Linked DNA regions of Homo sapiens. The protein of the gene in region 1 interacts with the protein of each later gene in a biochemical or structural test. Each region holds a gene or a part of one and is shown on either strand. Other genes may lie near its edges.

Region 1 (6,410 bases):
TACACAGCCAGACTTTGTCATGTCCTGCACCTATGTAGTGTGGAAACTGCTCCTCCACCTGCCCAGCCCACTTCCCGCCTGGGTCTTTGCACCACCAACCTGCAGAGCCCAAGACACCAGCTGCCTCGTGATCCCCCAGGTGGTGACAGGTGCCACAACAGCTTCCTGTTTTCCTCCCCCAGGTGTTTAATTTTCTCCTCTAGAAAAGTATCAAACATGCACCAAGAAAATTTGAGAATTACAGAGAAGTATGATCTCCCCACTTTTAGCACATTGGGATAGTTCCCTATTGTCTTTTCAATGCATTTTTTTCTTAAGACAATCTGTAAATAATTGACCAACCATTTTTCTCACTATATTGTTAGCATCTATTGTCACTGGAAATTATTCCATAAATGATTAAATAGCAATAGCTATATTTCACTGTCTGGACAATTTACTTACCCAGTTGTCTTTTAGACCTGTTTTTTTTGTTTTTTGGGTTTTTTTTTTTTTTTTTTTTTTTTCTGGCAGCTTTTGAGCTCACCGGAAAAAAAAAATTAGACTTTGGCCAGGTATGGTGCTCCTCCCTGTGATCCCAGAACTTTGGGAGGCTGAGGCAGGATTCCTTGAGGCCAGGAGTTCAAGACCAGCCTGGTCAACATAGTGAGATCTAGTCTCTATTTGAAAAACTTTTTAAATAAATTTAAAAGTTAGACTTTTTTTTGGCTGGGCACGGTGGCTCACGTCTGTAATCCCAGCACTTTGGGAGGCCGAGGTGGGTGGATTGCCTGAGGTCGGGCGTTCGAGACCAGCCTGACCAACATGATGAAACCCTGTCTCTAATAAAAATACAAAATTAGCTGGGCGTGGTGGCACATGCCTGTAATCCCATCTACTTAGGAAGCTGAGGCAGGAGAATCGCTTGAACCCAGGAGGCGGAGGCTGCAGTGAGCTGAGATCACGCCATTGCACTCCAGCCTGGGCAAAAAGAGTGAAACACTGCCTTAAAAAAAAAAAAACAAAAAAAAAAAAATTTTTTTTCCAAGTCTAATGTGCCCACAAACATCTATCTCCAAGTATAAATATTTGTGTATATTTTTAAATTTTTCCTCAGGATAAATACCCATCTTGATATGGCACTTGATACAGTTCCCGATAAAGGCAGGCAGAGCCAGATGAAAAGCTTTAGAAACCCTAAGCACTGAAAAACTATCAAAATCCTTCCATGTAATTCATAATACAAAACAACCTAACAATTATATGGCACTGCACACTTTCCTTTGTAGTAGTAACAGGAGTAAAAATTCATGATTATCGACATCTCTTTCTCCTGCTAGCCCAGAGGCCCAGAGAACAGGGACCCTGTCTCCTGTGCTCTATCATTTTTAGAGGGATGAGCAGGTAACCAATATACCAGTGAGAATTTGAAAGGCAGAAACTGTTGAATCCCAGTCCTCCAAACGCCAACTCACCTTCTGCCATCCCAGCTTCATGACCAGCAGAACTCATACCCACATCAGTTCCATTTATTCTTCGTACAAATATTTTACAGTTTTATTTTTAAATCATTTACACATATTCATACAAAGAAAAATAAATTTCAGGATGGAATCCTGGGACCATGGTAGTTTAAAAAAAAAATCTCTCTGATCATTAGCTACTAAAGACAAGGCAAGAGGCTTAGCAGTCATTTCTGGGGGTTAGTGTATCTCCCCATGCAGGGGACAACTGAGAAGAATCCAAGCTGCTCCCTCATCTTCCTTCGATCTAGATGGGGGAAGGGGATTTTCCAATGCTCTCCCCTAGAAACATTTCAAGAAGTACAGCAAAGGCTTATGGTAACACTGAACCTATTTGCTAGAAATCTGGCAAGATTGCACTTTCTGAACCAATTTTCTATAACAGTTGGCTCAATTCCCATTCACAGGTGCTTCTAAGAGGATGAGGGATTGCCGCACTCACCATACCCCCTTCCCACTTGCTCTGTCCTCCCACCAACGTTCCTGAATAGAGCCCTTGATCTCTTCTGATCTAGTCCCTCCCCGCTCCCACCCAGCCTCATTTCACAAGCAAACCTTCCTCCTATGCCACACACCCAGACACTCTGTAGCAATTGGCCCTGGCAGCTCCTGAGGACCGCTGCAGTGATGACACAGGACTATTGCATCAGCATCGTGCTCACAGGGAATCAGAGCTCAGCCAGGAGAGGTCCAAGAATGACAGAACCATGAGCACTCCTACCAAAACTCAGCTCTGCTCAGCCAAATCAACAATTCAACCCAACAGGCCAACTCCTAACACATCCCATCCAGACAGACATTAGAGGCGCACAGCAGATGAACCTCCTACTTACACTGCCCAAGGAAGCTGGACTATCAATTCCCAGTAAAAGTGGGGGAAAGGACAGACATTACAGATGTGGTAGACCCTATCAGAAATGGCAGCTGATGATAACAGTTACCCTAAATCGTGGGGTCCTACCCAAAAAGCAGCACCAAGAAAGGGCATGATGAGCAGAGAGATCTGTAGCTGGATGTACAGCCCTTGAATTACCAAGGGACTCAGAGATGACACAGCTCATTTTCCTACAATTATGTAGGAACTAGAACACAGACTACCCACCCCTACGTTGAGGCAGCTCCTGAAAGGCCGTACCGCTTATGGTCATCAGCCCGCCCCCTTGGTAGGCCCATTTGGGGAGAGGGAATCACATCCAAAGCGGGGATCCCTCCAGGTGGACACTCACAGGGCAGCCCGTCCCACTGTCACTGGGGCAGGCCAAACATAGTTAGGAGGGTGGACAGATCCCGCGCGTCGGCTGCCCCATAGGCATCGCTCTGGCCTAACATAGACAATGCCAAACGCAGGGTGCTCCAGATGTTCTCCGACATGGCACCTCCTTCACCCCGGGGGCCCCGGCTTTTCCTCTGCATGTTCAGGGCCTCCAGAAAGTGCTCCACAGCCTCCCTGTAAGGAAGAAGAGGAATGAGAGCTGTTAAGCTGAACAACAATGGAAGGAAGCAGGTCAGCTAGCAGTGGGAGGGAGAAAGCTAGGGCTGGTTAGTCAAACAGGATCTAAGAATAAGGAGCTAGGGCCAAAGGCAGGGAGAAAAAGCTCATTCATTCATTTCTCAATAGATACTCTCACCGGTGAGCCCCGAGGTTGATGCAGCTGATGCCCAGGTTATAGCGGGACCGGATATAGCCAGGCTGGAGCTCGAGGGCCCGGCGGTACGCAGCTACTGCTTCTTCACTCTGGTTTCCATTGGCCAGGGTGGCGCCTAGCTTATTCCACAGCAAATAGTCCTGGGATAGGGATGCAGAACGGATGGGAACAGCTTGACTCAGCTCAAACTCTGCACATTACTCCACCGACTCAGCTCAAACTCTGCACATTACTCCAGCTGTTTCACTACTCTGTTAGCTAACATGTTTCGTCCCATTCCATTCTCAACAGTTCGGTGTGTGGCTACAATGTAGCCCCTCTCACCCTATGCAGACTCTCTTATGTCCAGATGACCCTACACTCCCAGCCTTCTTTTCCCAGTCCTCCCAAGGCAGTCAGTACATGGAACACTGGAATGAAATACCCCAAGACTCCAAAAGTCTGAACAAATTATTCTTTTTTGTGGGGGTGGGCAGGGTCTTGCTATGTTGCCCAGGCTGGATTTGAACTCCCAGGCTCAAGTGATCCTCCCACTTCAGCCTCCCAAGTAGCTGGGACTACAGGCATGCACCATCAAACCCAGCTTCCCAACAAATGGCTCTTCAATAAGGTACACAGTCATGTCCCATTTCCATTCCTCCCCTGGGCTCACATTGGGACGAACGCTGAGGGCAGCTGTGAAGCAGTCCACGGCCTTGTCATACTCCCCACTCAGGTTGAAAAGGACTCCCAAGCCACACTGCACATCAGGGTCAATGGAGGTAGGGTCCAGCCGCACAGCTGCCAGGAAGAGCTCTTTCACTTCAAGAAACAGGGAGCTGGATGAAAAGGAAAAAAACACAAAGTAGGTAGATGAATGTCTCTATTCCCATCCCCCCAAATTAATTTCTTCATTGATCAACCATATCCCCAACATTCATCAATCTATCAGTCATCTCTTCTACTCTCAAAGTCCAATATAGAAGCCTGTTTTTCTATTTCATCCTAGCACTGAACTGTAGAATGCAGACCTCCTTCAACTTGATCCTAGGTTTCCCATCCCATTCTCAGGACCCTTCAGTCTCAATCCATCCAAACTTCCAAAACCAAGGTCACCCTCCTACTGGGACTTAGGTTACTGTAATTCCTCATCCTAGGAACCCCTCATACTCACTCAGACAAGAGAGATCCCAGGATACGCTTGCTGGGGCCCAGTCCTGCCCCACCAGCCCCTTCTTCAGCAGGTGTCACCAGATGGGCATAGGCTGGTGTGTACCGCAGCCAGTCTCGTAGGGTTTCACAGGCCTGTCGCTGCAGGGACTCGTTGGTGAAGCTCACAGCCAGCGCCATCAGTGCTGTCTGGTTATCTGGCTTTAGCTCCAGACACCTGTTTGATCAGGGATGGGCAGACTTGATATCTGCAATGACTGACACTGGCACATGTGAGCACCCTGGGATCCAAGCCAAGCTTTGAAATGCAGAGTCACAATGGCCTCACCTGTGACTCCTCTGACATGAGTTAATAATAAAGTTACAGATCTAAGGGGAAGGTTTTAGCAGGCAAGGAGCCAACCAAAGCCGCAAATAAAATCAAAAGCCGATGAAGGAATGGAATTCACTCCAACCCTCAGAGTTTCAGCATGAGAAAACACTCTTGATAGCACTCAGAAAGAAGACAAGGATCCAGGTCTGGGCTTCTGTCATTCAAAAGGTTATATGCAGAGCCTTGGAAGCACCTCACCCACACCTTTCAGTGTACTCACCTCCGCAATGCACTGATGGCTAATAGTTCTTGTTCATTCTCTGCCTGGGTGGTACCCAGATACTGCCAAGCCTAGAGGGAAGTTGACAGATTCCATCACCCCATATTCACCTCTCCATTCGCCCTTCCCCCTGGCTTCTCCCACTCACCATCTCGCTCTCAAGCCCCTATCCTAGGCCATCACCCAGGCCCTAACCCATCTGCACTACTCTCCTTGGGGCCTTTCTCAAGATGGAGGAAGCAGTCTCTAGCCAGAAATGAGACTATGGAGTCACTCACTTCCATGTGCTTAGGATCCTGCTGCACAGCTGCCTCAAAAAGCAGCACAGCATTTGGCAGGTCCCCCTCCTGAAGGCGCCGCAGCCCTTCTTCAAAAGGCTGAGGGTGATCACGCAAGGGGTTCTCCTCCTCAAACTGGTACCCCTACAAGAAAAGCACGTGAGAGATGGACTGAGAGGTGGCACCGTCAGAACAGCAGGGATGTGAGGATGACAACCAGCAGGCAGAGAAGCTGAGGGCCTCCAAACAGGTTCCGGAATTAATTGCTGGCAAATTCTCCATATTATAAAGATCATGTATGACACAAGTAAAATCATTTGGTATCAGGTTTGTGCTCCCATCTCCTGTTCATGATACCTGGGAAGCTAGGAAAGTCTACAAATTCATCTGCGCTGGAAATAAGCTTATTTTAGGAAGTCATCACAGGCTTGTATTCCCACACCTTGACTTCTCACCACGGGGCAGAATGTCTCAACAGGATCTGCTTATAGTAATGAGACAAAGTGTCCCTAGCTATGCAAAGTGCATTTCTTGTTATCCTTCAATAATGTGATGATGTATAAAGGAAATGTTGTTTGGAGTCCTGCTATTCAAATATAACTCTTACTTAGCTCAGAGTCATTCCACATGTCAACTAGATAAAACATTTTCAAGCATTTTGAAAATGTTAATTTATTCCCCGATTTCATTCTTAATAATCATGAATATTAATCTGTATCTGACAGTAAGCAAAAGCTGGATCCCAAAATCCAGATGGCAGAGAATACTTCAGAAAGACACCATTCTCTTCCAGCTGAGGATTTCTCACTTTAGAGAAGAGTTACGATACTATCTGCAAAGCTTTGTCAACTGGCATTTTACACTAGGCAGAGAAGAAATGAGGTAAAGGGGAAGTCACTAGTAAGCTGCAAAATCTGGGACATGCAAATAAAAAGTCCGTTTTTGGAGAGTAGTTACCATCATAAAATAATACACCAGAACGAAAACAAGATGCAAAACAACAGGTGGAGGTCTTTCTAAATGCAGTTAAGAATAAATTCAGATAAAACTGTACAAAATAAAGACATGAGGCCCTTTTTCATTATTATTGTGAAAATGATAAAGAATCAAAAACACTTAAATCTTACCAGCAAAATTCTAAGTCATGATCAGATGCAAATTATTTGTCACAAATGAAAATTAAATAATTACAATGGGGGGTTTAAGAAGAAAGACATATTATAGTAGATTTGAGATAAATGT
Region 2 (7,172 bases), on another chromosome or scaffold:
TGCTCCCTGGCCGAGCGCCCCCATAGTGCCCACTGACCTCTGTCCCCAGGGCTGAAGAGGGCTTGGTGCAGACTTCCATATCTTGCCAGGGCCTGTCCCCACCTCACCCCGAGATTGCCAGGACACTAAAGCTGCCTGATGCCCTCCACTTCCCTCCTCCAGCCTCCCTCATCCCCGCATGGGGGTGCACAGGGCAAGGCCTTGAATGGAGTCAGATGGGATTCCTGAGAAATGCGGACAGAGCCCCTTGGGACCCAGCAGTCCCGTCTGCAGGTCTGAGCACAGGACAGAGGAGAGAAACTCCACGGCCAGGGAGGGTCCTTCTGACAGGGCCCCCAGCCCAGACAGCTTGCTGCATGGACCGTGGCCATGAATAAAGCTCACAAACATAACCTGGCCAGCTTCAGCAACACCCAGGCCATCCCCACCTGCGGCCAGCACGAGATACTTTCTGTGTCTCTTTTTTCTTTATAAGAAAACCTGGAGGTGGAGGAGGGTGAGAGTTTGTGAACATGGAGGCGGAGGAGGGTGAGAGTTCGTGAACATGCAGGCGGAGGAGGGTGAGAGTTCGTGAACATGTAGGTGGAGGAGGATAAGAGTTCGTGAACATGCAGGAGGAGGGTGAGAGTTCGTGAACATGCAGGAGGAGGAGGGTGAGAGTTCGTGAACATGGAGGAGGAGGAGGGTGAGAGTTCGTGAACATGCAGGCGGAGGAGGGTGAGAGTTCGTGAACATGCAGGTGGAGGAGGGTGAGAGTTCGTGAACATGCAGGAGGAGGGTGAGAGTTCGTGAACATGCAGGAGGAGGAGGGCGAGAGTTCGTGAACATGGAGGCGGAGGAGGGTGAGAGTTTGTGGCGCTGCTGCTTGGGCTGTTCTGGGACTCTGTCCCCTCTGGCCTAGATTCTGGCCAGTGGCTGGGCCGAGCAGCTGTTGGCAGAGGTAGGCCCAGCCTGGTGCCACCCTGGTCCCTGGGGTCCACACAGGCCCTCAGGCACCCGCTGTCCCTGGGAACCACAGACTGCCCGGCTGACCCTCTTCAGCACCACTGCCGGGCCCTGCAGCTGGGTCTCACCAGGGCCGTGATGCTCCCTCACTCCCCCAGCTCCCTCTGCTCCAATGTTCAGGGCTGAGAAAGGAAGAGCCACAGGTCCTGATGGATCCTGACAGGCAGGAGAAGGCAACTGGCCAACTCCTGGGGTGGAGGTGGGAGGTGCCCTGCCTTCCTTGCCAGCCTGAGGCTCAGAAACCCCATCCAGCCTGGGGCCAGGCCCTCCAGTGGCCCCCTGCCTCACCTGCTGCCCTCCATTCTGTCCCCCACCTCTCCAGGTACAAGTGCCTGCTCCTGGTGGATTCGGTGGCATCCCTGGGCGGGACCCCCCTTTACATGGACCGGCAAGGTAAGGGTGGGCTCTGAGAGCCCTACCCAGCCCAAGCAGCCTTGGGGCTCCGCGTGCAGGAAGCCCTGCTGGAAGCGTGCGTCCAGCAGCCGATGCTGCGGATTCGGCCCCATCTCCACCAGGCCCAGGGAAACACTCACTCCTTACTGCGGCAAGAGCGGCTCCATGAACTACCCAGCACCCCAGTGTTTCCACTGAGCTTTCAGATCCAGGCGTGGGGACTGGCAGGAGGGACAGCTTCTGGTGGGGGACATTTGAGATGCCCCAGAGCTGTAGCAGAAGCAGTGGGAAGAGGAAGGGCCAGGGCTCCAGTCAATCAGGCGTTGGGCACCCCTCTGCCCAACCCCCCAGAGGCTCAGTTTCACATCTGCCCTGCGCCCTGCCAGGCTGCCCATAGCAGTGAGCACCACTGTCAGGGTCACCTCGCAGGGAACCTCAACCAGGCCGGCCGAGGGGCCAAGGAGCCTCCTGTGCCCATCCGCTTACGGGAGAGAGCCTGCACATTGCATCCACTGCGGTGCCTGCCCACCCACTCCATGGGAGCCTGTCTGTTTCTGCAGAGCCCCTCCTGATTTGGGAGTTCTCAGGCAGGAAGGGAGGGATTTCTGGGCTGATCCTCAAACTACTACTGAAAGCAGGGACCTGGGGAGGGCCCCAGGGACACGGTGCCTGGGGTGGCAGGGCTGTCCCTGGGGACCAGCACAGCAGAGGGAGAAGCTGCGCTAAAACGCTCAGGCCTGAGGTCATGGCTGCCACGCAGCAGTGCCCAGATTTGAACCCAGGACTCCCTTCCACATCTCCCCTGCTATCGTGTACGGATTCGTGGTAGGGTCGTAGCCTACCAGCCCATTAGCTAGGCAGGCATCCCGCTGGACTGGCCTGCCCTGAGGTGGGACTCACCCGTCCCGAGCAAACCACCCATCTACAGGCATCGACATCCTGTACTCGGGCTCCCAGAAGGCCCTGAACGCCCCTCCAGGGACCTCGCTCATCTCCTTCAGTGACAAGGCCAAGTGAGTGACCCACAGACCCTCACCTCTGTGCAGGGCTGGGCTTGCAGGGAGCTCAGGTGGCCCGAGGCGGGAGGGGCGGGAGCCAGGCAGGAAGGGCTCCCCATGCTCCTCCAGCACCTGGCGCTCTCCCGCCCACCCTCTGGGAGGCCAAAGGCACTGCGTTCACAGGGAGTGGGGAGGCCGGGCGAGGGGAGGGCTGCAGGCGTGTGCAGGGTGCAGAGTCCACTGCTCTGGAAGTTCCCAGCTTCACAGCAAGGAGTGACCAGGAAAGGACTGAGGGCCTGAGGCCCAGTGCCCTGACCGGCCTCTGCCCTGGCTCAGCTTCCAGGGGCTGCCCCAAGGGACAACGTGGGCCACACACAGTGCCCCCTGCAGTCCCAATCTCACCTCCCGCTCCTGGTGTCCAGATTCTGAGCCAGGCCGGGCAGGGGGTAGGGGAAGGGGGCCAGACCTCACAGGCGGTTCCCATCCAGCTGCAGCCTGGCAACTGGAGGTGCCGTTCCCCAGAACAGAGAGGACTTCGGGGAGAAGTCAGGAATTCGGTGTTGGACGTGGGAGGTCTGAGATGCCAGCTGGACCACACGGGAGGGTGAAGGAAGCGGCTGGGTGTGAGTCAGGAGCCTGGGGAGAGGCCGGGGCTGGCCCCTCCATCTGGAGTTGTAGAGACGGACACATTTAAAGTTTCAAGCCTGGCCAGTGTCCCCTGGGGCCCGAAAGCAGTCACCTTTGGGTGATGTGAGAAATGAAGGCTGACCCTGTAGGAGGGGCTGGGGGAGAGAAAGGGGCACACAGAGTGGAGGGAGCTGGCCTTGGTGCCCCCATGGCAGGGTCACACAGCTGGGCCCAAGGGCCAGCGGGACTGGACAGCTGAGGGACCCACGACCCACCCGGTCCCACTCTGGCCCCTGAGCACAAATGCAGCTGGGGCGGGCCCTCCTGGGGGCCCCACCCCGTCTCACTCCCGTGAAACAGGACAGCCAGCGAGACTGCCCTGGCCTTCAGCCCAAACTGAGAGGCTGGTGCTCAGCCTGCTTCTTTCTCCCCAGAAAGAAGATGTACTCCCGCAAGACGAAGCCCTTCTCCTTCTACCTGGACATCAAGTGGCTGGCCAACTTCTGGGGCTGTGACGACCAGCCCAGGATGTGAGGCCTGGCAGGGATGGGAAGGTGGAGGGCGCTGGGCATGGCTGAGAGGTGGGGCGCTGGCCTCTCACTGCACTCAGGGATTCTCCAAGCCCCCCACCTTCATGCCTCAAGAACCCCAACTAGAGCCCCAGAATCCGCCTGCATCAGGCAGTCAAATGCCCCACCCTGGGTTCCCCCATTCCTCGACTGGCCCGAGGCTCTGGGCAGGGTCATGGCCCCCACTGCCGCTTCCACAAACACTGTCCCCCCAGAGGTCCCAGCACACCCTCGGGCACTTTGGACCTGGCCCTGCCACATCTCCCCACTCCTGGGCCTCAGCTTACCCCTTCTGAAAAGACGACCTTGGCCATAAACCCAAGGCCCCTTATGTTACACACAGGAACAAGGCGCCAGGAATGGTGCCCTAGCCCAGTGGGCACAGAGGGCCAGTGCCGGCTTCGCAGGCACGCTGGGACTGAGGGGCTCCGCAGGGAGGTGGTGGCACGTGTCTCTGCTCCTGCAGCCACCCACTGCCTCCTGGCTGGGCCCTACACAAGCCATGCTCTCCCTGGCAGACGAAGCTGCCTTCCCGGTCCAAAGTTCTGAACCCGGACAGGACTCCTCTGCGGAGGATACCGGCCTGTGGTCAGAGAGCCTGTGCTGTTGGGGCTGGGGCAGACAGAGCTAATGCCCCATCTGCCCCCAACCCTGCCCATGGTGCTGGACCAAGCCCCCTCGTGTCTTCCAGGTACCATCACACAATCCCCGTCATCAGCCTGTACAGCCTGAGAGAGAGCCTGGCCCTCATTGCGGAACAGGTGCATGGGCTGCACTCCACAGGAGGAGACAGGGCCACTGGCTGGATTGTCGAGGGCGCGGCCTGCAGAGAAGGAACCATCCCTGGTGCACAGAGAAAAGGGAGCCTGCCAGAGAGAGGCCCTCAGTGGGGGTGGGGGAGAGAGGACAGGGCCCCGGGTACACTGGCTGCGGGCAGGGCCAGGGGGATACAGCCCCAGGGACAGATGCAGCAATGGGGCAGGTGTGGATGCTCCCAACCCTTCCATTGCTGTGTGAAGCAGTAAGTGAGGCCCAGTGAGTGGGTGGGCTGGGAGAAGGGGAGGCCGAAGGGGCCAGAGATGTGCCCACAGATAGGTGGGCGTGGATGTAAAGTGAGGGTTGGCAGTTCCTGCAGGCTTGTCCAGCTCCTATGGCAGGGCAAGAGCTGAGCATGAGCACTTGGGTGTGACCAGGGGTTGATTTGGCCACTGCAACATCCACACTCTCAGGACACTGCAACATCCACACTCTCAGGACACAGGCGGCTGAGAGTGGCCTCAGGCCCAGCAGCTCTGCAGGCCACGAGACAGGAAGTCCCACCTACTTTCATCTGGGTCCTGTGTCCCACAGGGCCCATTGCCAGCCACCAGTCCAGAGTCCAGGAAGGATCCCCGGGCTGCAGCCAGCTTCCCATGAGGTTGCAAGGCCGTGCCTGCCACGTTTGTCCTCCTGGGTCCACTCATAAAGCCACTGCCTAGGGCTGGGTTAGTGCCAGGGTGCCCCTGTAAGCTAAATGCCACCCGCACCCGCGGGGGAAGGCGAGGGGTCAGGCGCTCACACAGGGAAAGGCTCTAGGGTCGTAAAGGTGGGTGGGGGGTGTGAGCTGGGCAGAGAAGGAAGAGAACAGGACCAGACAGCAGGGCACAGTCAAGGGCAGAGGCACAGGGACCTGGCAGAGTGCAGATTGCAGGGGCACATGCGCAGAGAAGACGGGCCAGGGCCAGAGTAGAGAGCAGCTGCTGCTCCGGGGACCCACCTGGGGTGGCCATGAGAGCTGGTGGCTGGAGGCCGGGAGGACCCGTGACCAGAGGTAATGGCACTGAGGGGCCCAGGGCTGGAGAGACCACCCCTCACCTGTCCAGAGCTGAGGCAGGAGCAGTGCTGCGGAGGATGCCAGGTCGGGGGAGCTGGCCCTGAGAGGAGAGGGGGCCTGGGAGCCAGCACCCTGAGCCCTGGCCCTGATCCACTCCAGCCCTGTGTAGCCCAACAGCCCTTCCCCTCCTTGCCCAGTCCCCTCCCCCTGCAAGGCACTCTCCACTCTTCTCCCCCAGGGGCCACAGGCAGACCTCCCCTCTGTCTCTCTGAACCCTCCTCTGTCTCTCCCAGACCCAGATGTTTCCTTCTGCCCTGGGGTAGTCCCAGGCCCTGCCCCAGGCAAAGTCAAACTGGGGGCTCCAGGGGCTCCCCTGCACCAAGGCCTGCAGAGTCAGGTTCTTCCTCCCGCACCACAGAGGGCGGGGCTTCCTGCCCACCCCACCCATGTCACTGCCCACCAGCGCCATCTCCCACACAGGGCCTGGAGAACAGCTGGCGCCAGCACCGCGAGGCCGCGGCGTATCTGCATGGGCGCCTGCAGGCACTGGGGCTGCAGCTCTTCGTGAAGGACCCGGTAAGGAGGCCCCTGGCATTGGGCAGCCCTGCACCCATGGGGAAGGATGAGGGGCTCTTGCCCAGCCCCCTCAAGAGGGACACTGGCTCCTGAGAAGGAGGGGGCGGCTGCCCGGTGGTGTGGCCTCGGTGCCAGGGATTAGTCTCGGCAGGAGCCACGAAGTCACAGCTCCCGGCCTCTGATGCGGGATCTCAGGACGGCCTGTGATCTCCCAGTGGGAAGGTGCCCATCCACCGCCTCCTAAGGGGTGGGGTCCCTGCTCTCTCCCGGCCCTTTCTCCCCCGGCTCCTCTGGAACCTGAAGCTGGGGCAGATGGTGCAGGCCAAGAGCTGTCACAAAGGCCCGTACAGGGCCTCTCACCCACGCACTGAGCCAGGCCCCTCCTGCAGGCGCTCCGGCTTCCCACAGTCACCACTGTGGCTGTACCCGCTGGCTATGACTGGAGAGACATCGTCAGCTACGTCATAGACCACTTCGACATTGAGATCATGGGTGGCCTTGGGCCCTCCACGGGGAAGGTGAGAGGGAGCGCCTCGAGGGCCTTTTGCAGAAACCAAACCCGCCACCCCTCCTTGAGCAGGACTGTGCACCAGGTGCAGGGGAGGCCGGGGTCATCCGAAAGCCCAGATTGCAGGAGCGTCCAGAAGGGCCCACTCTCCAAGGGGTATCCAGTAAAGCGTATCCTGTCGCCCCTGCTCCCACCCCAGCCCACTGAGGTCACCAGGTGCAGCCTTTATGATTCCACTCGGAACATCCTTCCTTCCCTCTGACCAGACCCTGGAACCAGGCCGGAAGCCCCACGCCTGGGCCTGGCTGTGTCTCTGAGTGGCAGTGGGGAGGGACCTTCACTGCACCACCCTGTCCTCCCGTGTGGCTGCGGGTGCAGAGGGAGGAGAGCCTGCCCTGGCCTGGGTGCTCAAGGGCCCCCTCTGTGACCTGCACAGGGCTGTCAACTCCCCTCATGGACGCTGGGTGGGTGGTCCTCACTCAGGTGAGCCCATCCTGGCTCTGGCCAGCTGTCGGTCAGGGTCAGGCAGGTCCCAGGCGGGAGGCTGACGTCAGCCCGCCCTGTGCCCCCCAGGTGCTGCGGATCGGCCTGCTGGGCTGCAATGCCACCCGCGAGAATGTGGACCGCGTGACGGAGGCCCTGAGGGCGGCCCTGCAGCACTGCCCCAAGAAGAAGCTGTGACC

The links. Proteins that work in one complex are often made in the same cells at the same time.
Region 2: the proteins of PEX5 (region 1) and AGXT are reported together in a solved structure, tested with the Homo sapiens proteins (2 studies listed by BioGRID and IntAct, with this or other methods).

The regions. Positions count from the first base shown.
Region 1 is NC_000012.12:7,206,561-7,212,970, reverse strand, and holds the end of PEX5 (peroxisomal biogenesis factor 5), read right to left. Parts: intron 5,313-6,410; coding exon 5,169-5,312; intron 4,962-5,168; coding exon 4,891-4,961; intron 4,515-4,890; coding exon 4,302-4,514; intron 3,967-4,301; coding exon 3,801-3,966; intron 3,289-3,800; coding exon 3,131-3,288; intron 2,950-3,130; coding exon 2,748-2,949; 3' UTR 1,512-2,747; downstream 1-1,511.
Region 2 is NC_000002.12:240,871,652-240,878,823, forward strand, and holds part of AGXT (alanine--glyoxylate aminotransferase), read left to right. Parts: intron 1-1,327; coding exon 1,328-1,398; intron 1,399-2,326; coding exon 2,327-2,411; intron 2,412-3,457; coding exon 3,458-3,553; intron 3,554-4,283; coding exon 4,284-4,353; intron 4,354-5,885; coding exon 5,886-5,981; intron 5,982-6,370; coding exon 6,371-6,499; intron 6,500-7,062; coding exon 7,063-7,170; 3' UTR 7,171-7,172. UniProt on the Homo sapiens protein: Peroxisomal aminotransferase that catalyzes the transamination of glyoxylate to glycine and contributes to the glyoxylate detoxification.